4 linked regions of the Homo sapiens genome follow. The protein of the gene in region 3 purifies or fractionates together with the protein of the main gene of each other region. This does not show direct contact. Each region holds a gene or a part of one and is shown on either strand. Other genes may lie near its edges.

Region 1 (7,035 bases), on a different chromosome or scaffold from region 3:
AAGAGCTTCCTTTCTTCTAACTTTTCTCATTGTATTAGTTCATTCTCACACTGCTAATAAAAACATACCTGAGACTGGGTAATTTATAAAGGAAAGAGTTTTAATTGACTCACAGTTCCACAGGGCTGGGGAGGCCTCAGGATCCCTGCAATTATGGCCGAAGGGGAAGCAAACCCGTCCTTCTTCTCATGGTGGCAGGAAGGGGAAGGAGTGCCAAGCAAAGGGGGAAGCCCCTTATAAAACCACCAGATGTCATGAGAACTCACTCACTATCTGGAGAACAGCATGGGGGAAACTGCCTGCATGATTCAATTATCTCCACCTGGTCCTGCCCTTGACATGTGGGGATTATTACAATTCTAGGTGAGATTTGGGTGGGGACACAGAGCCAAACAATATGACTCATGAACCTTCCTGCCTTTCTTAGGAGACACTCATCCCAGCTGCACGTGTAACTTGGTAAGGTTTTGAGGTCATTTAGAAGTAGCCAGGTAAATTATTATTGTCATCTACTCAGATTTATCCTGCAGTCTTCAGCCAACGCTGAATGCCATGGTTGGTAGCATTTCCCAAATGGTGGTAGCATCAGTGAAGTCCAAGAACCAGTTCCTGTGCTGATGTTAAGATTCTTGAAGGACTTAAATAGTAGTATGATACAAATGAGTTACAAGATCATTGAAAATTTTTGTCAGCATTAGGGAACTCTATAATCTACTAATTATTATTATTATTATTGCAAATAATTAGTTTAAATCAAATGGCAATTGTCCAGTCCAGATAAATATTGTTTTTACTACTTCTCCCTTTGGAAAGAGATAATATATTGTGTTCTAATCAAGGAGGACTTGGTTAACAAGGAGCTATCTCCCCGCTTATGTGGGGACAGGAAATATATTGCTGTTATGCTTTGGTGCTTCAGGATCTTAAATGGTTGAGACTGTCATTATGACCTTTGATATATGTTAGAAATGCCCAGGAAGCTGTGGAAGGTGGATTGTCTGCAAGATGTGCAGAATATCCTGGTAGTGTCCACATAATGTAAAAGCACAAGTGTTTGAGCTACTTGTGGTTTTTCTTATTTGGAGTGGAGAAGAGTAAAACAATTTTACTTGCACGCACACACACTATACACATACCCAGATGATTGATAGACATACCAGGGGTTTTGTGCTTACTTTGCCTTCAGCCTCTCAGAGACTGATTACGTTTGGAAAATTGAAATAGCCCAACAGGAACCTTACAGAGGATGTTAACCTCAGAAGCTTTTTAGTTTCTTCTTTTGTATTTGTCCTGTATTTACGTCTTTCAGTAAAGTAAAAACTCAGTTATTGACTTGAATTGCTTTGGAAGCATTGAAGTCTTCCACCAAATTGATTCATTACTGTACTAATTCAGTTCATTCCAGTGGTCTGAATCTCCTATTCCATGGTTTAATCATCACTCTGGCTCCTTCTGCATATGAAGCTATTGCATCTTACTGGTCCTACATTGAAGTGTATTGTATCTGTTTGTACAACCGATCATACATTTTAAGTTTTTATATTTCTCCATCTACCTTGTTTCTTCACAGAGCTACAGGCAACCAGCTGCTTTCATCGTCACACAATACCCTCTGCCAAACACTGTAAAAGACTTCTGGAGATTAGTGTATGATTATGGCTGTACCTCCATTGTGATGTTAAACGAAGTCGACTTGTCCCAGGTTAATGGCTATGGATTGCTTTTATGTACTTATATACAACTTAATAGAGTAGTAATGAATTGCTAAAATCTGCTTTATACTCTCCTAACTAGAAAAAATAATACTCTTTTTTTTTTTCTTTCAAAACGTTCATCATTTAGGGCTGCCCTCAGTACTGGCCAGAGGAAGGGATGCTACGATATGGCCCCATCCAAGTGGAATGTATGTCTTGTTCAATGGACTGTGATGTGATCAACCGGATTTTTAGGATATGCAATCTAACAAGAGTAAGTCACTATCGGATCCTTTGAGCTGATCTAGAATAGGTCAGTCATAACCAAGATGTGGTATAATTTTATTCAGACAACAGGGAGACTACAATTAATAAGCACTATATCATCCACCTCAAAGCTAGTAACCATCTTATGCCTTAGTACTCGAATAAAAATACAGGAAAACAGAAATGCTGGAAGCTAGGTTTTTCGGTCAGTCACTAGACTAGCATATTCTCTCAGGAAATACAGATGCACTGGCTCAGTCAAGTTGGACAGCCTAGGCCTGGCCTCTGAGTGTATGTAGACTTATCTTAAGGATGACTGCATGTTTTATTAGTATTGACATCCAGCCCAGAAATGGCATGTGATAAAAAAAATAAGAACATTGCAATAACAATAATGACAGAGAAACTGTACTGCAGGAGGAAAGAGACATGTTGGATCAACCATTATAGAAGGGTTCCATGTCACTGTTCCAAGTTCATTATTGATTATCCTACCTGCAATTTCATCTTCCTAAACGTCTCAACCTATGGCTCTAAGCAGATCTAAAGGTAGAACCAGTGCTGCTACCACCATGCCTTTTCCCAGCAGCAAAGTAGTAACTGTATCGTCTTTCTCTGACTCCTCATTTGCTTTCCACTACATGACAAATTCAATGTGGGTGGGGAAGATCTTAAAAAAAAAAGTGCTAATAAAGCCCGGGCACAGTGCCTCATGCCTGTAATTCCAGCACTTTGGGAGGCCAAGGCGGGCAGATCATAAGGTCAGGAGTTCAAGACCAGCCTGGCAACGTGGTGAAACCCCATCTCTACTAAAAATACAAAAATTAGCTGGACATGGTGGTGGCATGCCTGTAGTCCCAGCTAGTGGGGAGGCTGAGGCAGCAGAATCATTTGAACCCGGGAGGCAGAAGTTGTAGTGAGCTGAGATCACGCCACTGCACCCCAGGCTGTATAGAGCGAGACTTCGTCCCCCAAAAAAAGATATTAATAAAAACAATTTAGATTATGTAACCAAATAACAAGCAGAATTGGAAAAGAAAACATTAGTAACTTTCATGAAATTAAGCTCTTTTTAGAGAGAAACATTACTCTGTTTTTTAAAGCACCAGCTCTGTGGGTATGTATTTTAAGTGTGTGATTAGGATTATCATGTTTCAGTGTCTCTCATATCAAAATGACTACGTGTGTGTCTGGTTAATAAGTCTATATGTATATAACTATGAGCAGGGAATGGAATCATATCGACTCCTATTGCTCATTTCAGTGGAGAAAAAAAGGATAACTTCAATCATCTCATAATATTCATGCATATCTTAGATGTTAATTTAAATGGAATCTCATTATGTCTGCACATCTGTTACATTATGGTTCTAGTAATATTTGAGTTGGAAAAAAACAGAACTGCTGAAGACAGTAAGGCTTGTCTGTTAATTGAGCAGTTTATGTGAAAAATATTCTAGGAACAGGAACTGAAATGTTATATTTTTGTCAGCATATTTATTTATTTGTTTGCTTACTTATTGAACTGCCTCTGTATTTGGTATTCTGGTCCTTATTAGTACATGATTTTTTTTCTGTTCTCACTCTCATCATTTAATATATTTAATATATTTAACTGCATCAAACATTTAACATGTACCAACAAGTTTGTAGAGTACTAAGTAGGGCTTGTAATCTACCAAAAGATGCATGGGCTCTTGCCAATCTGATATGATTTACTCATATATTACATATTCTTCCTGATATTTTTATTTCAAGGTTTAAGGTTTTGATTCATTCTTTCAACACTACTACTTTTGGGGAAGTATTATGCAAAGTTCTACTGATACAGAGTGTAGGAAAAAAAGATTTCCGTGTACTTAAGGAATCTTTATTTTTTTCAGGAAGAAAAGCATTACATGAAAATTGTATAATCCTTTTTGTATAAAAGTGATGCATTTTACAGTGAAAGAGTAAAGAATATAGAGTGTTTAACTGGGTGATCTGACATAACTGTGTGATCAGAGATGACCTCTTTGCGATAGTAGTATTTAAGCCAAAATTTAATGAATCAATAGAAATTAGTTGGGGGTTGATGTAACCCACCATCCTGGTTTGCCCAGGGCAGGAGCTTTCCCAAGACACACAGCCTTCAGTGCTAAGACCAGAGAAGTCCCAGGCCAACCTGGGACAAGTTGGTCATTCTATTTGGGATTGAGAAGACCAAGCAAGGAAGAAGTATTCAAGGCAAAGGGTACATACAGTATATGCAAAGTCCCCAAGGCAAGAAGAGACTTGATATATGGATTAAAAGAAGACAAAGAGAAGGTTGAAGAAGGGGGTGGAGCCAGATCACATAAGTTTTTTTAAGCCATGACAACAATTTGGATTTTATGCTAAGATCATTTGAAAATCATTAAAGCAGGAAATGACAAGATTGTATCTGCAGTTCAAAATAATCATGATGCCTATAGTAAGAATGGACTGGAAGGAGATCAAAGTTTATTCAGGGAGATCAGCTAGGAGGTAATTATCAGAACCTGTGACTAGTAGTGTATTGATGTCAGTGGTGATAAAGAGAAGGCAATGAATCTGAAAGTTATTTAGGAAATGTAATCGTAGTAATGAATTACTGGATACATAGTGCGAGGGAGAAACAGGTATAAAGGATGATTGCCATGTTTCCTGCTGTTGTCACTTAGAATGTTTTTTTACTAGCATGTACATATTGAGGATTTATATCAGCTAGACTCAATCCAGTGTAGATGCCATTTGTATTGTAAATTATATGCACCTTTTACTTTTTAGTAAAAATTGTAGTCCCAGCGTATTTACATAAAAACACTTCCCTCTACAGCCACAGGAAGGTTATCTGATGGTGCAACAGTTTCAGTACCTAGGATGGGCTTCTCATCGAGAAGTGCCTGGATCCAAAAGGTCATTCTTGAAACTGATACTTCAGGTGGAAAAGTGGCAGGAGGAATGCGAGGAAGGGGAAGGCCGGACGATTATCCACTGCCTGTGAGTAGGGCAGCTCAGCCTGTCATTCATGGGGCCTTGGTGCTTATTTTCTCATTTTCAATGTTAAAGACTATCTGGCTTGCATCTTATGGACCTCCCATAGATGTTATTTTTAAACAGTCTTCCTGTCTCATGAGTCTATAATTAACTACTAAGTTTATTTTGTATATTTTCTAAATATTGATTATTATATAGCTATATTATTTAAACTCTTTGGAACACTACTCGTAACAACTTCTGATTTACACAGTTTACAAATATATCAGAATCTCAAAGTCTAGATTGCAGCAATCTATGCCTATAGCATTTTCCTGAGTATAAGCTACTGATCTAATTTCATCCTCAAGTTTTCTCCTCTCTGCCTTGTACACATATAAAGCAAAATTAAGACACAAATGGAAAACAATTAAAACTACAATGTCTTATTTTCCCAAACATATATGATGGTGTGACCTGTGGTCACTTGGTGCTGCTATCTAAAATGCCTTTGCTTTCTTTGCTTTCAGAAATGGTGGCGGGCGAAGTGGCATGTTCTGTGCTATAGGCATCGTTGTTGAAATGGTGAAACGGCAAAATGTTGTCGATGTTTTCCATGCAGTAAAGACACTGAGGAACAGCAAGCCAAACATGGTGGAAGCCCCGGTGAGTCACAGAATCTTAGATTTGGAAGGCATCTTAGAGATTAGTTAGTCATATACCTACTTATTGATTTGACTTCATACACACATAGGGAATCAGATGTGAAAATGAGACGTTGTGGGGACTTTCCTGCCTAATTAATACATTGCTGAGCATCCCCCTCTACCCACAGACACTTAATCACGTATTGCATAAACTGCTAATCATGAAACTATTTTCATTTAATTTGGGAAATTTGTAGGATTTTTTTTCTGTTATAGCCAAAAAATATTTGCTGCAGTAAACTTTGGTAAATGGTCCTATAAGAAGAATAAATCCTATATCAAGGCTGTATGTCTAAGGGATATAGGTTTCATCAGTACCTTAGACACCCAGTATTTTTAAAAGGCAATGAAATTTAGTTTTGTCATTATCTATAATTATTCATTCATTTTCTGATCAAATTGTAAATGGTTAAACTATCATGGTTAAGTTTTCAGCTTTTACCAACTGTAGAGGGCAGTTCATATCATGCTACTTGAGCTTGTCAAGGCTCGTAAAGTCAGAACATAGCTTACAAAATAAGAGCTGATAGGTATGTGTGTGTGTGACAGTTCATCTAGGTGAAGCTGTATGCAGAGTAAGAAAGAAAGTTACACTTATCTAACACATTTTACTTCTAACGAGAGATATCTGTGGGTTACACATATGTATGTGCATGGTGGGATCAGGTTGGGAGCAGCTGTGTAGTGTATGCTCACAGAAAAGTAAACCAGAAAAACCAAGGCATCATTGTTGCTTGCCCTACATTTATCAAGATGATCAGATAACTAGAATGAGCAATTCAATAAACCTTTAAAGTATTTCACCACTTCCTGCTCATGGATTGCTCGCACAAGAGTTGCGTTGCTTCCTGAGACAAAATCTGAAGACTTAGGTTTGTACTGTTTCACTTTTACAAGCGGTACCAGACTTCCACCCTTTCTACAGGTGTCCTCAAACTCCCTACACCACCTCATTTCCCTGGGTTGTTGCAGCTGTCTACACAAGATTACATTGGTTTTGATTGGGGTGCTGGCTATGGAGATGAGAAAGGGGGGATGAATCGGAGGGATTTTTGAGGGAGAACTCTCAGATCGTCTTAGCAACTAAATGAATAGTGGTTATGTCTCTAAACTTTGCGATTTGAAGATTTCTTGATGTAAACTCTGCCTCCATTTTTCAGGTCAAGTCTTAAAATCATCAGTGGGATCATTTCTGACTTCAGAATTCAACTTTTACCTTCAAATTTAACTGATTTCCCACCTTTTTTAATTAAAAAAAAAATCTATGGTTAAACTGTGCCATTCTGGGACCTTCCAAAAAGTTACTATTTTCCTTTACATTCATGTCCCGTGAATCCTGAACACCCCACCCTCTGATTTGTGTTTAATCAGTGTTGATGATTAGTTTAGTG
Region 2 (7,035 bases), on a different chromosome or scaffold from region 3:
TTTTTTTTTTTAAATTAAAGGAAGACATAGGCCAAGGAGCCAGACTTCCTGTGTTAACTCCTTCCTCTGCCACTTTTTACCTTGGGGACCTCAGGTAGGTACTTAAACCTTGGGCCTCAGTTGCTCATTTCATAGTATAGAAATAATAGCAATATTTGATTCAAAGGGTGGTTGTGTAGCTCCAGAAGTTAATACATGTAAAGTTCTAAGAATAGTCCCCAGTGTGTAGTAAGTACTTGATTAATGTTAAATACTAGTACTTTTTATTACTAGCTGCAAAAAAAATGCTTCCTCAGAAAATATTATAGTCCTGTGTCTGGTAGGAATTTCTGAAAGAATAAGATATGTAGATGCACTTTTGTTATTAATATTTCTTTTTTTTTTTTGATGGAGTCTCACTGTCGCCCAGGCTGCAGTGCAGTGGCCTGATCTCGGCTCACTGCAGGCTCTGCCTCCCTGGTTCATGCCATTCTCCCGCCTCAGCCTCCTGAGTAGCTGGGACTACAGGTGCCAGCCACCACGCCTGGCTAATTTTGTTTTTGTATTTTTAGTAGAGATGGGGTTTCACCGCGTTAGCCAGGATGGTCTGGATCTCCTGACCTTGTGATCCACCTGCCTCAGCCTCCCAAAGTCCTGGCATTACAGGCGTGAGCCACTGCGCCCGGCCTAATATTTCTATATTTTAATTTTTTTACTTAAAATTTTCTTTTTTTTTGGTGGAGGGGGGGACAGAGTCTCGGTTTGTCGCCCAGGCTGGAGTGCAGTGGTGCTATCTTGGCTCACTGCAAGCTTCACCTCCCAGGTTCACGCCATTCTCCAGCCTTAGCCTCCCAAGTAGCTGGGACTACGGGCGCCCACCACCACGTCCGGCTAATTTTTTGTATTTTTAGTAGAGACGGGATTTCACCGTGTTAGCCAGGATGGTCTCCATCTCCTGACCTCGTGATCCGCCCACCTCGGCCTCCCAAAGTGCTGGGATTACAGGCGTGAGCCACTGCGCCTGGCCACTTAAAATTTTCTGTGGATATTTCCTTTTTTAACTGGAATCAGGAAGTTAGGTTTGTTTTTTGATTTTTGAGATGGGGTCTCACTCTGGCTCAGGCTGGGTGCACTGGTGCGATCACATCTCATTGCAGCCTCCACCTCCTGGGCTGAAGAGATCCTCCCACCTCAGCCCCACCCCCGCAGTGGTTGGGACTACAGGTGTGTGCCACCACGACCTGCTAATTTTTAAACCTTTTTTTGTAGAGATGGAGTCTTACTATGTTGCCCAGGCTGGAAGTTAGATTTCTGTGTTTGAGTTATGTTTATCTTTAGAAAGTCATCATTATCCGCTCCTTTGGAAGATTTGTTCTTTGATTTCTATGATTACTTTTGCATGGTTCTAATTCAGAATCTCTGATGATTTTTTTTTTAATTCTAATTGTGATTGATTTTTGGCCAGAATACATCAGAGGTGATCTTACATACTTCAAATTGCATACCATTAGGAGAGATATACCAGATGGCTGGTGATTGTTACTTCCCTTTGACCAAAATGTTATGTTTACTTTGGTTCATTCTCCATCAGTCATTTAGTGGATGGTTTTAAAACCAATACATAATTCTTGGCTGGATGAGTAAATTTCTACAGGTATTGTAAAGTGATGATTTTCTGTTTTTTTTGTTGTTGTTGTTTGTTTGTTTTGTGTAAAAATGTAGTAGTCTATACGTTAAGAGAAACTTCTGGGAACAAACTAGAAATGATCCCTGGAAGTATAGTCTTAATTTCTCTTGTCTTTTCATTCCTTTTACATTTGTTTCATTGTTACATCAAATTGTATCTTTTTTTCCCCCTGGCTTTTTCTTTCTTAAACATCATCCTAAAGTTGTGTATATTTAGCGTGTTCTAGAATCAGCTGCACTTTTTGATGCCAGTGGATACCCCTTCAGGTCATTCTTGTCTCATTTTGGCTGACATCATTGATCTTGGAAAGTTTTCCTGCACTGCAGGCTTGTATCTTCCTCCCAGACTTGGAATTGACCATTTCTCCAAGGAGCTCTGGTTCCTTTTATTGGAGAATGGTATTAGAGACAAGATCAAGGGTGTGCTCATTGCCCAGGGGTAACATTGTTTTAAGGCCATTTTAAATTGCAGAGCATTTAAAAAATACATTTTTAATGTATTTTTAAAAATCATGAGTCCATATTCGTATTTCTAATTCACTTTAAATGGTATAGTATTTTTACCTAATTTCTTAGCTCCTAGTTCTTTTTTTTAATTTAATTTTATTTTATTTTTGAGACGGAGTCTTGCTCTGTCGCCCAGGCTGGAGTGCAGTGGCACGATCTCAGCTCACTGCAATCTCCGCCTCCTGGGTTCAAGTGATTCTCCTGCTTCAGCCTCCCGAGTAGCTGGGACTACAGGTGCATGCCACCACGCCCAGCTAAGTTTTTGTATTTTTAGTAGAGATGGGGTTTCACCGTGTTAGCCAGGATGGTCTCGATCTCCTAACCTCAGGTGATCTGCCCACCTTGGCCTCCCAAAGCGCTGGGATTACAGGCGTGAGCCACGGCGCCCGGCCTCCTAGTTGTATTTTATAGTAAAAAATATGAAACAAGTTATAAGTACTTATTTTGTTTGCTTTATCCTGCAATATAAAGAAAATGGTTTCAGTAACAATGCTGATACTAGTAGTAACCATAAACATACTGTATCATGTTAAAAAATTCTTTCTTTAATATATGTAACTATTTTTGTTCTTAAAATGCATCTTTTTTTTTTTTTTGAGATGTTGTCTTACTCTTTTGCCCAGGGCAGAGTGCAGTGGTGTGATCTTGGCTCACTTGCAACATCTGCCTCCCCAGTTCCAGCGATTCTCCTGCCTCAGCCTCCTGAGTAGCTGGGATTACAGGTGCCCACCATGACGCCTAGCTAATTTTTGTATTTCTAGTAGAGACAGCGTTTCACCATGTTGGCCAGGCTGGTCTCGAACTCCTGACTTCCTACTCGTCTTGGCCTCCCAAAGTGCTGGGATTTCAGGCATGAGCCACTGAGCCCAGCTTTTAAAATGCATCTCACTAAAGATGTATGTAGTCAAAGAACTCTGTTCTAAAGTCATTTGAAATCGTTTTTCTGAGGAATTATGTTACTAAATTAACATACAGTTGGGTTCATTTGTTGTTTTCAGGTTAAGGGACTGCTTTTTTTTTTTTTTTTTTTTTTGAGACGGAGTCTCACTCTGTCCCCTAGGCTGGAGTGCAGTGGCGCAATCTCGGCTCACTGCAAGCTCCGCCTCCCGGGTTCACGCCATTCTTCTGCCTCAGCCTCCCGAGTAGCTGGGACTATAGGTGTCAGCCACCACGCCCGGCTAATTTTTTGTATTTTTAGTAGAGACGAGGTTTCACCATGTTAGCCAGGATGATCTTGATCTCCTGACCTCGTGATCCACCCGCATCAGCCTCCCAAAGTACTGGGATTACAGGCTTGAGCCACCGTGCCTGGCCAAGGCACTACTTTTTAAAAAATGAATTTGATTACTATTGAAGTAAGTAATGCATTTCTGTGATTCAACAAAGATCTATCTCACAGAGATATCTCATTCTGCTCCCTTCCCCCAGTCACATTCTTCTTTGTCTTATGTAAACATGTCTTGTTTTTTTTTGTTTGCTTCTTGTTTATCCTTCAAGTGGGTTTTTTGTTTTTTGTTCTGTCACTATTATATATTTCTCTTCACTCCTGTTTCCCTCCACCTTACATAAAAGATAGCATACCACATGCACCTCCCTATATCTCACTTTCTTTAATAACAGTATGTCCTAGAGATAGCCCTTCCTTTTTTCTTTCTTTTTTTTTTTTTTTTTTTTTTGAAATAGTCTCGCTCTGTCACCCAAGCTGGTGTGCAATGGTGTTAACATGGCATACTGCAGCCTCCAACTGCTGGGCTGAAGTGATCTTCCTGCCTCAGCCGCCTGTGTAGCTGGGACCACAGGCACACTCCACCACACCTGGCTTTTTTACTTTTTGTAGAGATGAGGTCTCACTGTTTCCCAGATTGGTCTCGAACTCCTGAGCTCAAGCAGTCCTCCTCTCTTGGCTTCCCAAAGTGTTGGGATTACAAGTGTGAGCCACTGCACCCAGCCAAGGTGTTCCTTCTTAATCATAATCTTTAAAAGAAATTTTTTTTTCAGCTGCTGTATAAATAAGATGTCATTATTTGGATGCACCATGGTTGATTCAGTTAATCCCGTTGTTGAGCATTTGGATTGTTTCCAGTCTTCTGCTGTTGCTAACAATGCAGTAATGAATAATTTTTTTATGTGCGCCATTTTATACTGACACAGGAGTAGCTCTAAACTAGACTGCTATTAATACAAATGGCGCTGCCCAGTGGGTAAGTACTTACACTCCCACAAGCCATGTGCGAGAGCGTCTTCCCCTTAAACTCACCATGAGTGTAGTGTCGAATATTTGGTATTTCGCTAGGGACATAAGAGACAATCTGAACTTCAGTGTAGGTTTCATTTACATCCCTTCTTATGAATGAGAATTTTTTTTTATATGTTTAAAGGCCTGTATGTATTAATCTAGGAACTGTCTATTCATATCCTTTTCACCATTTTTCTATGGGGTGTCTTCTCCTTAGAGGAGCTGTTTATAAATTAGAAAGGTTAGCCCTGTATGAAATGAGTGGTGGCTTTTTTTTTTTTTTTTTTTGAAGTTTTCATTTGCATTTGGACATTGTTCACAGTGGTTTCTTTTTTTTTTAATCTTGCAGAAATAAGAGGTTTTGTTTTAATTTAGTAATAATAGTTTCTTTTTTTACATAGCCGTGCTTAGAATGAGCCCCCTGTGGTTGGTGAGCACAGAGACATCCCCGCACCACACCAAAGACCTTTTTATTCATGTATTTTTTAGAGGCACAGTCTCACTGTGTTGCACAGGCTGGCCTTGAACCCCTGGGCCCAAGCAAGTCTCAGACTCCCAAGTAGCGGGGACTACAGGCAGTGCACCACCATGCTGCTATGGTTTTCTTTTTATTTTCAAAACTTTTGGCTGGGCGCGATGGCTCACGCCTGTAATCCCAGCACTTTGGGAGGCTGAGGCGGGTAGATCACTTGAGGTCAGGAGTTTGAGACTAGCCCGGTCAACATGGTGAAACCCCGTCTCTACTAAAAATACAAAAAATTTAGCCAGTCATTGTGGTGCACGAGATCACACCACTGCACTTTAGCCTGGGCAACAGAGTGAGACTCCGTCTCAAAAAAAAAAAAAAATCTAGTTACATTTTTTTCTTTTTGAGATGGAGTATCTCTCCGTCCCCCAGGCTGGAATGCAGTGGTGCGATTTCGGCTCACTGCAAGCTCCGCCTCCCGGGTTCACGCCATTCTCCTGCCTCAGCCTCCCAAGTAGCTGGGACTACAGGCGCATGCCACCACGCCTGGTTAATTTTTTCGTATTTTTAGTAGAGACGGGGTTTCACCATGTTAGCCAGGATGGTCTCGATCTCCTGACCTCGTGATCCGCCCGCCTCGGCCCTCCAAAGTGCTGGGATTACAGGCGTGAGCCACCGCGCGTGGCTGATTCATCAGTCTTTTATGGTTATCAGACTTTTCCACTCTTAAGTTTCACCGATATTTTCAAATTCTTATAAAGTTACAGTTTTTTGTTGTTTGATTGTTTTAGAGTTGGATCTTGATCTGTCACCCAGGCTGGGGTGCAGTGGCGTGATCACAGCTGACTGCAGCCTTCATATCCTCGCTAATTTAAAAAAAAAAAAATTGTAGAGATAAGATCTCCCTGTGTTGCCCAGGCTGGTCTCAAACTCCTGGGCCCAAGTGATCCTGCTACCTTGGCTTCCCAAGTCAGAGCAATAGTTTTTTTAAGATTTTGTTTTTATTTTAATTTATAATCCATTTAGATTTTATCCTGGTGTATGCTATCAGATATGCATCCAGCTTTACCTTTTTCCAATTGGCTACCACGTTCTTTGACATCATTTATTAAAAGGTCTTACCTGGCTGGGCACGGTGGCTCACGCCTGCAATCCCAGCACTTTGCAAGGCCAAGGTGGGTGGATCACTTGAGGTCAGGAGTTCGAGACCAGCCTGGCCAATATGGAGAAACCCTGTCTCTACTAAAAATACAAAACATTAGCTGGGTGTGGTGGCACATGCCTGAATCCCAGCTATTCGGAGGCTGAGACAGGAGAATCGCTTGAACATAGGAGGGCGGAGGTTGCAGTGAGCTGAGATTGTGCCACTGCACTGCAGCCTGGGCAACAAGAGCCAAACTCCATCTCACACACATTAAAAAAAGGTCTTATGTTTACTATTTTTAGGATGCCACTTTGATTATATACTAAATTCTCACATTTATTTGGTCTGTTTCTGGGTGTGAGCAGAAAGACTGAGGACACTGCTATAGCCCAGGTGTAACAACCAGGGAAAATATTTATCTTTTTACTATTGAGGCTTTATCATTGTGTTTTACTTTGTGGTATAGCTAGTCTCTTAATTGCTCGTCCTTTTCAGTGTTTCCTGGCTATTCTTGCCTGTTTATTTTTCTTTGTAAATTTTAGGATTAGCTTGTCTCGTTCCAGAGGGGGAAAAGGTAGAACTAGTTTGTTACTTTTATTGGGATTGCATTAAATTTATAAAATAACTTGGGAATAGGGACATTTTTATGACATTAAATATTCCTCTTTATGTACGTGATACGTATTCTCGTTTCTTTTTGGGTCCTCTAGGGTGTTTTAAAATTTTTTTCATACAGGTTTGGACACTTCTTACTAAGTTTATTTCTGGATGTTTTGTTTTATGTTGCTATGAATGGAGTCATTGTTGGCATATATGAAGCTGTTGATTTCTACATACTAATATTATTCCCTGCTTTCCTTAGTTATTTGTAATTAGATTATATAATTGAGGCAGTAGGCATCCTTGTCTGTTTAGAATCTAATAGAAATGCCTTCAGTGTTTTTCTATTACTTTTATTATCATGATTTGCTTTTCAGTGTTTTTACATTAGATAAGATACTGGCTTTTGTGGTCAGA
Region 3 (7,035 bases):
ACTATTTTCAGAAGCAGTTCATTCATTCATTTAATAGATACTTTTAGATGCTGTTGTGCTAGCCATTTTTTCTGGCTCTGAGATCGTAGGTCTGAGAAAAAATGGTCCTTATATTTTCCTGGGAGTCATTTTTGCCTTAGTGGCCATGTCTCCTCAGTTTCATTAGAGGACGCTTCTTCTGGTCTTTTCTTTAAATACTGCTGTTCCCCAGCACTCTGTCCTCAGACTTCATTTCCCTTAGATTTATTACTCTAAGATATTTTTCACTGATCCTGTGACTTCAACCATAGACATTAGTTTCACAACTCTCAAGCCCTATTATCAGGGCAGGAGTCATTTTCCCTAGGATGCAGAAGTAGGTACATGTCCCGATTCTCGTATGTAAAGTCACAGGTGAAAAAGTGAAGCTTATCTTCCAACTGAGATCCAAGGCTTGACTCGAAGATCCATAGCTTTTGTTTTGTCTTGCATTGCCTCTCAATTCAAAATTTCCAGCCACTATCTTTCTTTGCGTGTGTGTGAGAACTCAAAGAGGCTTCCTGTATTGAACATTTTTCCTTCTTCTCAAATACCTAGAGAAATGCCCTCTTGAACACACTTCCTGTAACCAGTTATTCTTACTGATGTCTAAGCTCCTGTCTTTTCATTCGGGGGGTTGCAATGAAGATAACTAAGTTAACCTATACTCAAATATTTTCTTTCTCAGGGTCAGACCTTCTTAAAGTAGCAAGTCTAATTCTAATGCACACACTAACACTGTAGGTATTTAATTTTTTTGAGTAAATACATGCATGAGTAAGTAAAAGGGGAACATAAATATGTTAAAAACCAAACATTCTTTCTATAGATAAAAACAGTGTCAGAAAACTTAAGACAAGAAGCAATATACAGAAACATTTTCAATCCTACAGATTTATGGATCTGGGTGAGCATACACTTAGATCTCCAGAGAAAACCTCCTTCCCCCAGCCAATCTATTCTCAATGCCCTTTTGCAGAAATGGAAAATCAAGAAACTTGCTCAGGTAAATACTCCAGTTATTATCCATGACTTTCCAATGAATTCCTTTGTTCTTGTTAAGGTTATTTAAGCCATCTTTTTTCAGGCAGAATATCCTTTGAACATAATCAACTTCTCAATTATTACATGTATAAACAAACCTTTTTTCTACTGTCACCCACTGTGGTCCATTTAGATTTAATTGTTTCTTTCCTGGTACTTAGTTTTATTTATTTATTTTTTTCACTCAACAGCTATTGTGTATTCATTTGATCAGGAGTATTTTACTAGAAAATGTTTAATATTATCTTATTCTCTTACTTTCATTGGGTCACATGGACTTATAAACTTTAATGCACCTTAGGGTTTTTGCCGCAGAAACTGAGAAGTGAAGAAAAGCAGGGTGAATTTCCTGTTGTGTTTCTTATGGCTGTCCGGAAATATCCCATCTGCCCGTGTACATACAGTCATAGAAATGGGAAACATTTTCTATTATTGAAACTAATCTCCTGTTTTATATATGTATATATAAGTATCCTGAAGCCTAGATGTAATATAATGGGAATCTTGCTAAAAACCAGGTTTCTTTACACAATTTAGTGTCTGTGTCCTCTCCTAGTTCATTCAAGAACACATATAAGAAAACAGTAAGTGGCTATGCATTTTCATTGAAGAATAGGATGTGGTTCTCTAGTGATCACAAATTGTATGGTGTATAGAAGAAAGTGAAAATGCTTTTCTTCTCCATTATTACAGGACATAGTTCTTTTCCTCAAAGACATCTGCTTCTTCGCTCATCATGCCATCCTTCAACCAGAGTATTTTCCACCCTGCAGTCTTCTTCCTTACTGGCATCCCTGGCCTTGAAACCCGTCAGATCTGGACCTCCATCCCATTCTGTTGTCTCTATGTCATTGCTATCTCTGGGAATGGCATGATCCTGTTTGTCATCATCACTGAGTCAAGCCTCCATGAACCCATGTATCATTTTCTCTCCATGCTATCCTTCATGGACCTAGGTCTGTGTCTTTCTACATTGACCACCATGCTGGGTATTTTCTGGTTCAATGCTCGAGAAATCAGTTTTGATGCCTGCATTGGCCAAATGTTCTTTATCCATGGCTTCACATTCATGGAGTCCTCAGTACTTTTGGCAATGGCCTTTGACCGCTTTATTGCCGTCTGTAACCCACTGAGATATGCCACAATCTTAACCAATTCACGGATTATTAAAGTGGGCTTTGCAATTGTTCTTAGGGGAACAACAGCTCTAGTGCCTCTACTCCTGCTCCTTAAGCGCCTCTCCTTCTGCCGTAGTCATGTGCTCCACCATTCCTACTGCTTCCACCCTGATGCGATGAAGCTCTCATGCACAGACACATGGATCAACAGTGCATTTGGCCTGGCCATTGTTATCTCTACTGCTGGCTTAGACTCTGTCTTGATCCTCATCTCCTATGTTCTGATCGTCCGCTCTGTGCTCTGCATTGCCTCCCCAGAGGAGCAGAAAAAGGCTTTTGGTACCTGTGTCTCTCACATCAGTGCAGTTGCCATCTTCTACATCCCCATGATCAGTTTGTCACCAGTGCACAGATTTGGAAAGCATGCCCCTCCCCTTGTGCACATGCTCATTGCCAATGTTTATCTGCTTATCCCTCCTGTAATGAATCCCATAATCTACAGTGTAAAGACCAAGTAAATTCGCAAGGCTGTGCTCAAAGCATTTCTTTCTAAGCTAATTTAGGGAAGTTTGAGTGTACTCCTTCTTTACCAAGTCTTCCCTGACCCATGTTTGATCATTCAGTACTGTGAGTTACTGTTGTTTATTGAAACAGCTGGTTTCAACATGCTTTCTTTCTATTCTGATGATCCACTAACTTACCATTTACACAGTTCTAAATGGTGAGTTATTTAAGGGCAGAGATTATGTCGGTACTTCTGATCCTTTCATGAATACTGAACCTAGCACAGTATAGGACCACAGTTAAAATATGTCTGAAAGCATGCACAAGTAAAGTCATACTTGGAGTTTAGGAGTCTCACCACCTCTAGAGCATGTAGCTATCCAAAGTAGATCTCATGTAACGTAGATCAGTAGGCAAAGTCTAGGTTTTAGTAATTCTTACAGTTTATTTGTGATGATTCATTATTCCACCAGACAGATTGTAAATGGCTGAAGAATATGAATAAGCACAATAAGCAAGAAGTATTAATAAAAGGACTACTTTCCTAATTCTTAAAAGAGTACTTGAGGTCACCTTGGTAAATGCATTTGTATTTTAATAGTAGAAGATCTGGGGGTCCATTGTCTAAATATATGTCTAAAGAAGAAAAATGGGCAAGAATGTAAAGATATATTGTGATGTTCAACACATCATTCATTATACATTGCAATGAACATGTGGAAACTGCTTAAATAATTACTTTAGGGTACTGACCTAATAAAACATAAAATACAATGCAACAAGTTAAATACTGATACAAATATAAATTACATTTTGTTAAAAAATATAGGTTAGTATACAAAGTACTTACTTGTGTATATATTTCATGTGAATATGTGTAAATGCACATTAAAAAGTATAAATAGACATATCCCAAACATTACAACAGCTTATATTTGATAGCTGGATATTGTTTTGCTGACATATTCTTTACACTTTCTTGCATTTTATAAATGTTCAATAATGAGGGTTTCTTTTTCTTTTTGGATAATGAAGTAATTTCCACTTAATACCTTCCCACAAAACAAAACTTTTTTAGTTCTTCATCTTACATAAGATCTTCATTCCAGTGGGTCTTCACAGATCTGGCCTCATGCAACCCACTGAATACACTCATAAGATGACATCCACTTTCTACTTGCATCTATCACTTTTCTCAATGTGGTCCAGCATCTGTGCATCCAAACCACTTGACACTTCCGTTTAAAGTGCAGATTCCTCAATTCCGCTCCAGAGCTACTTAAACAGAAGCCCTTGAAATGGAACCCACAAATTTGCATTTTAACAAGACATTTACGGATTATCATGTATGAAAGAGTAACACTTTTCTGGGGTCTATCCACTTTGATGAATTATATATATTTCTGAAAAACACCAGGAATATATTGCCTCTAAGTCTGTGATTATTTTGCTCTCTCTGACTGACATACCCACCTCTTTCTTTTCCTGATTGTTCCATTTATTATTCTTTCAGGTGCTGTTAATAAATCTTTGTCTTACAGGGAGTCAGATTTCTCTTCCCCTACTGATCTGAAACTTTTTGAAAATGGGCATTGGACTTTGGGAATTGATGTATCTCGCACAGATACAAGTGCAGTGCTTTATTAATAATAGCTACTTAATGTATGCTTATTGAATTAAATTTATTTTTATATAACTTCACATATATACTGACATATTTTGAGCATCTTCATTTTGGCAAACACTGTGGAAGGGAGGTACTAGGGATAAAACAGTGAATGGGGAAGGCACAGCCTTCATTCTTAAGGTGTTTAAATCTGACTAAACATATCTAAATTCAAACAATATTTTAATCAGTTTTTACTTACAAACTGTGTACAAAACATTATACCACATGCTAAGAGTAGTCATAGATGGCGGTCTCTCTTTCTCCCAGTAGAAGCCTGAACCAATGGAAAAACAACCAGCCCAGGAAATACTTGACTTAATAAGAAAAATATAGCTCCTAGAAATTTACTGTTTAATAGAGAAAATATAATATGCACTCATTTCTAAGCAATGAAAGCATAAACATAAGTTATTTAAATTTCATATGGATAGGAAAAGTTTTCAAAAATAATTTTGAAGTTGGAGCAACCACATTTTTGGGTGTATCTTAAAATAGATGTACTAAGAATGTTATTGTGAAAGTAACAATTTTGATTCATGCTTTAATAATGTAATTTATGAAGTGTCAATTACAGATAATCTTGTATAGTATAGTTATACGTACCTTAATAAAATCCACTTTGAAGTATATTTATTTTCTCTCTTTATAAAGTAATACTTTATATTTTTTCTTATTTCTAAGTTTTTTTTTCTTTTAATCTTACAGCTTATATCTCTTATTTTTCCCTACTATCTATGTTACACTCTGAATTCAACAACATCCAATACTATGGTCTATACATTTTGCTTTTATTTATAGTCCATCTGAAACAATGGTTGTTTAAAACTGTGAGAACTAATGCTGAAAATAGTAGTCTGGTTAATCTGAAGTAGACTTTGAAAGAGTAGGCGATAGGGTGTTGAGGTTCTGTTTGAGAATGTCTTCTAAATTGACATTTCTATAAACGGATATATCAGAGTTTAGGGGGAAAATGTGATGTTTGTACCATTCAGGTTGATATTGAAACCAAGCAGAAAACTGCAATATATTAGGGATTCTCAAATTAGGTGCCTGACTTCCTCAGCTGCTTCACGTGGAGCTGTAAAAATGCATTTTTCTAGGGAAGAGGAAAGACTAAGTTCCATGCTGTGTTATTTGTATTATGTTATTTAGATTCAAATGACTTAGGATGCATAAAAGATCTTCATGCCTAACATAGATCCTGTCTCCCTATTTAGCTTCATCTCTCCCCCACACTGGCACCCAGGGTTCCAAGTGAGCTGAGTCTGTTATTAGTCACCTTCTGTTCTTCCTACACTCTGTGCTCCATTGTCTCCTGACAGACCTGGTTCTGAGTTTCCTTCAGGATAAACACAACTCTTCTGTACTGTCATCGTAAATATCCCTCATTGTAAACACTGAGTTTTATGTCTGTTTCCACAGGTGGTTCCCTCCAAGGAGCTCTGGAGGGAAAAGACTCTGTTTTATTCTCTGTATTACCAGTACAAAGTCCTAGAATATGAAAGATACTTCAAATGTTCCATGAAAGAATAAATGAAGATTTTTGGGGGGCATAGAGTGAAGCACAAGCAGAGGGGTTTCTAAAAATATATAAAATTCACCTAAATAATATAGGAGGAAGATAAGTTTATCAGTTGGGTGTGGGAGTGGTGTGAAGATGAGGGGCGATCTGGTGGGTTTTTTTGGGAGGGTGTGGTTACTCACAAATTTACTTTTAAGAAAATTTTAACAACACATAAGATCAAAGACCTGTAACAGCAGTCCCTTCATGGAAACTATAAAAGAACATGAAGTAGAAGGAGAAGAAAGCCATGAAGTAGAATGAGCCCTTGGGAAGCTTCATACTCTGGGGGCTGCAGAAATCACCACCAGGAGCTTATTAAGAGCTTTCAGGCATCCTGAGATATGGCTTCAGATATATGCTACTTATTTCTGGGTAGAATACATCCCCAGCTCCTCAGGCTCCTTTCTGGAAAACAGGCAGGAAAGAACACATCCTTATACTTTGTAAGTAAAACTGCTGCATTTACGAAAAACATTACACTTTACACGCCCTGGTTTCTTTTAAGAATGAGGGGGACTTTATTAGCTGCAGAAAGCTCTTGTGGGTGCCTAAGGAAAATTGTGGAAATCTATTTTCTGAAATCTGTATTTTCTAGGAACATTCTATTCTGAGGAGGTTTGATTGGTCTATGAGCCATTTGTTTTGCTGCTTAGAGCAGGTTGTTAATGTGTCCATGCAATTTTAAGTTTCCTGGTTAGTTGTGTCACATTTTATAACTGCCACTGAAGGTCCTAAAGTCAACAGCCACTACCACCGTCACACACACTGCCACTGCCATTCTTATCCTCATCCTCATCTTCATTTACCAATATCACGTGACTTCCACGTCCCACACACTGGTCAGCATATTATATGCTTTGCAATGTTATCTTGTTTAATCCTTACAAAGTAGTGCCATTGGTGAACTACCAGTTTCACCTTAGTGGAATCTGATGTAAAGTGCTTATTTGGAGAACTCCGGCTAGCTCTAGGTGGCAGAGACCAAATTTGAACCTAGGTTTGTATGACGGTATAACAATATCACTTACTCTGTAATCAGAGAAGAGAGATAAGTCAAGGTAGCCCAGGAAATAACTTGAAACACATTCTTACAATGGGCCTGGAGTGTTATCTTGGTA
Region 4 (4,492 bases), on a different chromosome or scaffold from region 3:
TTGCAGTGAGCCGAGATTGCACCATTGCACTCCAGCCTGGGCGAGAGAGCGAGACTCCGTCTCAAAAAAAAAAAAAAAAAGTAAAGTAATAATAATAATAATACTATATTCTTTTTCTTTTTTTTTTGAGACAGAGTCTTGCTCTGTTGCCCAGCCAGGAGTGCATTAGTGTGATCTTGGCTTACTGCAACCTCCACCTTCTGGGTTCGAGTGATTCCTGTGCCTCAGCCTCCTGAATAGCTGGGATTACAGGCATGTGCCACCAGGCCGGGCTAATTTTTGTATTTTTTGTATTATTATTATTTTTTTTTGAGATGGAGTCTTGCTCTGTCACCAGGCTGGAGTGCAGTGACTCGATCTCAGCTTACTGCAACCTCCACCTCCTGGATTCAAGCGATTCTCCTGCCTCAGTCTCCTGAGTAGCTGGGACTACAGGCATGCACCACCATGCCCGGCTAATTTTTGGTAGAGACAGGGTTTCACCATGTTGGCCAGGATAGTCTCAATCTCTTGACCTCGTGATCCGCCCACCTCGGACTCCCAAAGTGCTGGGATTACAGGTGTGAGCCACCACGCTTGGCCATTTTTGTATTTTTGTATTTTTTTTTTTTTTTGAGATGGAGTCTCACTCTGTCAGCCAGGCTGGAGTGCAGTGGCGCAGTCTCAGCTCACTGCAACCTCCACCTCCCGGGTTCAAGCCATTCTCTTGCCTCAGCCTCCTGAGTAGCTGGGATTACAGGTGCCCGCCACCACGCCTGGCTAATTTTTATATTTTTAGTAGAGACGGGGTTTCACCATGTTGGTCAGGCTGGTCTCAAACTCCTGACCTTGTGATCCGCCCGCCTCGGCCTCCCGAAGTGCTGGGATTAAAGGCATGAGCCACTATGCCCGGCCCATTTTTATATTTTTAGTAGAGACGAGGCTTTCGCCATATTGGCCAGACTGGTCTCGAATTCCTGGCCTCAGGTGATGTGCCTGCCTCAGCCTCCCAAAGTGCTCGGATTACAGTTATGAGCTACCATGCCTGGCATTTTTTTCTTTTTAATGCTTTTTTAGTCTACATAAATTACTACCATACGCTAATGTTTAGAAAGCAAATAAATTGAACCAAATCTGGTCACCCAATTAAAAAACAATTTTACTAATAATTCAGGCCAAGCGCGGACCTCCTGGCCTCAAGCAATCCCCCTGCCTCAATCTCCTAAATTGCTGAGATTACAGGTGTGTACCACCATGCCTGGCGAAGAGTTTATGTACTTTAATTCACCTTTTTCTTGCCACTAACAGATGTCCCAGCTAGTGGAATGTATTTCATGACATATGAATGGCTGAAAAATATCTTCACTCCGGAGGGAAAGAGGTGAGGAAAACATAACTTGGAAGCCACTTTCCCCAGTCATGGGTGCGTTGCCCTCTCCTGTGGGTGAATCTGAAAGCAGAAGTAGTTGTTGTTCCTGGCTCCATGTCTGCTTTCCTCTTGTGGCTGCTGAGGTCCAGCTAGCTCTTCTTACTCTGTGCCTCAGCCAGTGGAGCAAATATTTGAAACAGGTGCATGAAACCTTCTCCAAGGAGTGCCAGCAGCACTGGCCTTATACCTCCTCCCTCCAACCAGTTTCTGCCTGTCTGTAACTGCCCTGTCTGCCACAGGCAGGATAGTCTGAATGCCACTCTCACAGCCTTTGTCTAACTGGGGCTGTGGTTGGTGTTATACAGGGTCAGTGAGCTCAGTGCCCCTCGGATCTTGGTGGCTGGGGGCATTGCAGGGATCTTCAACTGGGCTGTGGCAATCCCCCCAGATGTGCTCAAGTCTCGATTCCAGACTGGTGAGTGGAAGGTAGTGGGGTGGACAGGGGGAGAGTGGGTCCCCAGCACTGGCTAATCCTGGGGTGCAAAGCTCATAAGGCCCTAGGGATACTCACTCTCCATGGCAGCACCTAGCATCTGCCTGACCAATATTCTCCCTCACAGTCATTTGCATTCTAGGAACCCTAGATTCATTTTCATGACAGCCTAAACACAAGGTAAGTGTGATAAGAAGTCAAGTCCACTCTTCCTCCCCCACATGAACAGAAGGGCTGTTTCATTCTTCTTCCCTCGTTTCTATTCCCTTGGCACAAGTAATTCAGGCATTTGTGCATTTGTCCCAAGGTGAACTGTTGTCTATGGACTGGTCCCACATGACCTGCAAGGTGTCCTTTCCCTGTGCTAGTCCTGACCCTTCAGGAAGACTTAACTGCTAGTTTCTCCTTCCTGAAGCCTTAAAAATTGGGTTCTGCCCCACAGCACCTCCTGGGAAATATCCTAATGGTTTCAGAGATGTGCTGAGGGAGCTGATCCGGGATGAAGGAGTCACATCCTTGTACAAAGGGTTCAATGCAGTGATGATCCGAGCCTTCCCAGCCAATGCGGTGAGTAGCTGGCAGGGCTGTGCTTTCCCTCTGGGGCTCAGGGCAGGGTGCATGTGGTTTGACTTTTGCTTGTTCCTGGGATAGGACTGGGGTCTCAGTTTTCCCAAAGCCCTATCTTCAGCCAGAGCATTCCTTATTTGCTCCCTTCCTTGAAGCTGTCAGGAGGATTTGCCTTTGGGGATCTCTGAGGTGAGGGGCTTTGATTTCCTGACCTGGCCATTAGAAGTGGGCAGTTGTGAGGCCAGGCATGGTGGCTAGTGCCTGTAATCCCAGCACTTTGGGAGGCTAAGGCAGGTGGATCATCTGAGGTCAGGAGTTTGAGACCAGCTTGGCCAACATGGGGAAACACCGCCTCTACTAAAAATACAAAAATTAGCTGGGCGTGGTGGCGGGTGCCTGTAATCCCAGCTACTCAGGAGGCTGAGGCAGGAGAATTACTTTAACCTGGGAGGCAGAGATTGCAGTGAGCCGAGATTGTACCATTGCACTTCAACCTGGGTGACAAGAGCAAAACTCCATCTCAAAAAAAAAAAAAAAAGAAGTGGGCAGTTGTGGAATATAAATTTTCTTCTCCTCTTAAAAATGAGAGAGTAGAGCTTGCATCCTTGATGTGGAGTGGGTGTGGGGTTAGGGAGGGGCTCTGGTCCTGACAGGGCCAGCAAAGCATAGTGCTTTGAATAGTCTATGAATAGTTATTCCTGCTGGCTTTTTTCTTCCTCCCAATCCCTTCTTAGGCCTGTTTCCTTGGCTTTGAAGTTGCCATGAAGTTCCTTAATTGGGCCACCCCCAACTTGTGAGGCTGAAGGCTGCTCAAGTTCACTTCTGGATGCTGGAAGCTGTCGTTGAGGAGAAGGAGTAGTAAGCAGAACTAAGCAGTCTTGGAGGGCAAGGGGAGGGGAATGGTGAGATCCGAGCCCTGTGCATGGACTTGGTGAGACTGTTGCCTTAATGACATCCTGCACCGTGTATAACTTAGTGTGTCATTTTGAAACTTGAATTCATTCTTATCAATTTAAGGGATCTTAAAAGGATTTGGAAATGGAACAAGTAGCTTCCAGACCAGATACTACCTGTGGCAAGAATGCTGCCTACCAGTTAACTGCTGGTCCTACCACAGTCAAAGTATTCCTCATTAAAGAGAGAATCTCAGGTTCTCACTGGAGGCACTGTGCATATTTTCAACCAGATCACCAGGAGCTGAGATCTTCTTCAGTCCCTAGCCAGGAATACCCATTTGATTTCCAGGGTGCCATCTAATCCTGGGCTGTACATGTGGATATGGACTTGAGGCCCACCTCTGTGTCCAAGTGGATTGAGCATATATGCCTAGGAGGAGATAGACTGTTAATCGTTGGATTTTGATTTTTTTTTTTTATGCCTGCAAATAATCAAAAGTAAAACTGGAGTAGCCTAATTTTCTGGGAGCAGGTGGAGAACTTTCCCTCCTACACAGTGAGGACAGTCCCAGTCTGCTGGGATAAGTGAGAAAGCCCAGGGTGTAGGAAGGCCCTTTTTACATACTCTTTTCTCATGAGAGCTCACTATTTTAACAATAAACAATAAACGTTGTTTCTAATTTTTGCATTGTGTTATATTTTCTTCTTTTGATTCTGGGACATTTCAGCAGGCAGCCTGTAGCCTTGGTGGAGGCTTTCAGGGATCCAGTATTCTTCCCTGGGAACCTTAGGCTGGGGATCCAGCAGGAGGAGGTGGAGGAGGAGGAAGTTTTGGCTGGCTCTGCCTTCTCTGACTGCCCTAGCCCCGGCTGCTCTAGGGAGGGTGTGTGGGGTGGTGTGACCCGACTGGTAATTGTTCACACAGGCCTCAATGCAAGCCTGGCAGACAGGCCCTCCCAAGGCCCAGCCTGCAACCCATCCCTTCATTTATTCCCCTCTCTTCCCTGAGCACCATGGGTGTCTGAGCTAACAGATGGAGAGTCAGTTGTTCTAAAAGGACAAAAGCAATCTCGGGTTTTCATGTGGGCTTTGGAGTTGCTGTGCGATCTGAGGTAGCTAGCTTAACTTTACTAATCAGGCAGATTATGCTATCCAGGTGTGTCCAGAAAAGGTGAGGGAGTTGGAGAG

Evidence for each region.
Region 1: the proteins of MMP26 (region 3) and PTPRK purify together in Homo sapiens (affinity purification with mass spectrometry; 2 studies listed by BioGRID and IntAct, with this or other methods). This does not show direct contact.
Region 2: the proteins of MMP26 (region 3) and ZNF146 purify together in Homo sapiens (affinity purification with mass spectrometry; 2 studies listed by BioGRID and IntAct, with this or other methods). This does not show direct contact.
Region 4: the proteins of MMP26 (region 3) and SLC25A20 purify together in Homo sapiens (affinity purification with mass spectrometry; 2 studies listed by BioGRID and IntAct, with this or other methods). This does not show direct contact.

Annotation. Positions count from the first base shown.
Region 1 is NC_000006.12:127,971,590-127,978,624, reverse strand, and holds part of PTPRK (receptor-type tyrosine-protein phosphatase kappa isoform b precursor), read left to right. Parts: intron 1-1,570; coding exon 1,571-1,702; intron 1,703-1,842; coding exon 1,843-1,968; intron 1,969-4,797; coding exon 4,798-4,961; intron 4,962-5,467; coding exon 5,468-5,603; intron 5,604-7,035. UniProt on the Homo sapiens protein: Regulation of processes involving cell contact and adhesion such as growth control, tumor invasion, and metastasis. Negative regulator of EGFR signaling pathway. Forms complexes with beta-catenin and gamma-catenin/plakoglobin.
Region 2 is NC_000019.10:36,218,102-36,225,136, forward strand, and holds part of ZNF146 (zinc finger protein OZF), read left to right. Parts: intron 1-20; 5' UTR 21-94; intron 95-7,035.
Region 3 is NC_000011.10:4,707,771-4,714,805, forward strand, and holds part of MMP26 (matrix metalloproteinase-26 isoform 1 preproprotein), read left to right. Parts: intron 1-7,035. UniProt on the Homo sapiens protein: May hydrolyze collagen type IV, fibronectin, fibrinogen, beta-casein, type I gelatin and alpha-1 proteinase inhibitor. Is also able to activate progelatinase B.
Region 4 is NC_000003.12:48,856,423-48,860,914, reverse strand, and holds the end of SLC25A20 (mitochondrial carnitine/acylcarnitine carrier protein), read left to right. Parts: intron 1-1,287; coding exon 1,288-1,360; intron 1,361-1,713; coding exon 1,714-1,823; intron 1,824-2,283; coding exon 2,284-2,408; intron 2,409-3,142; coding exon 3,143-3,205; 3' UTR 3,206-3,989; downstream 3,990-4,492. UniProt on the Homo sapiens protein: Mediates the electroneutral exchange of acylcarnitines (O-acyl-(R)-carnitine or L-acylcarnitine) of different acyl chain lengths (ranging from O-acetyl-(R)-carnitine to long-chain O-acyl-(R)-carnitines) with free carnitine ((R)-carnitine or L-carnitine) across the mitochondrial inner membrane, via a ping-pong mechanism.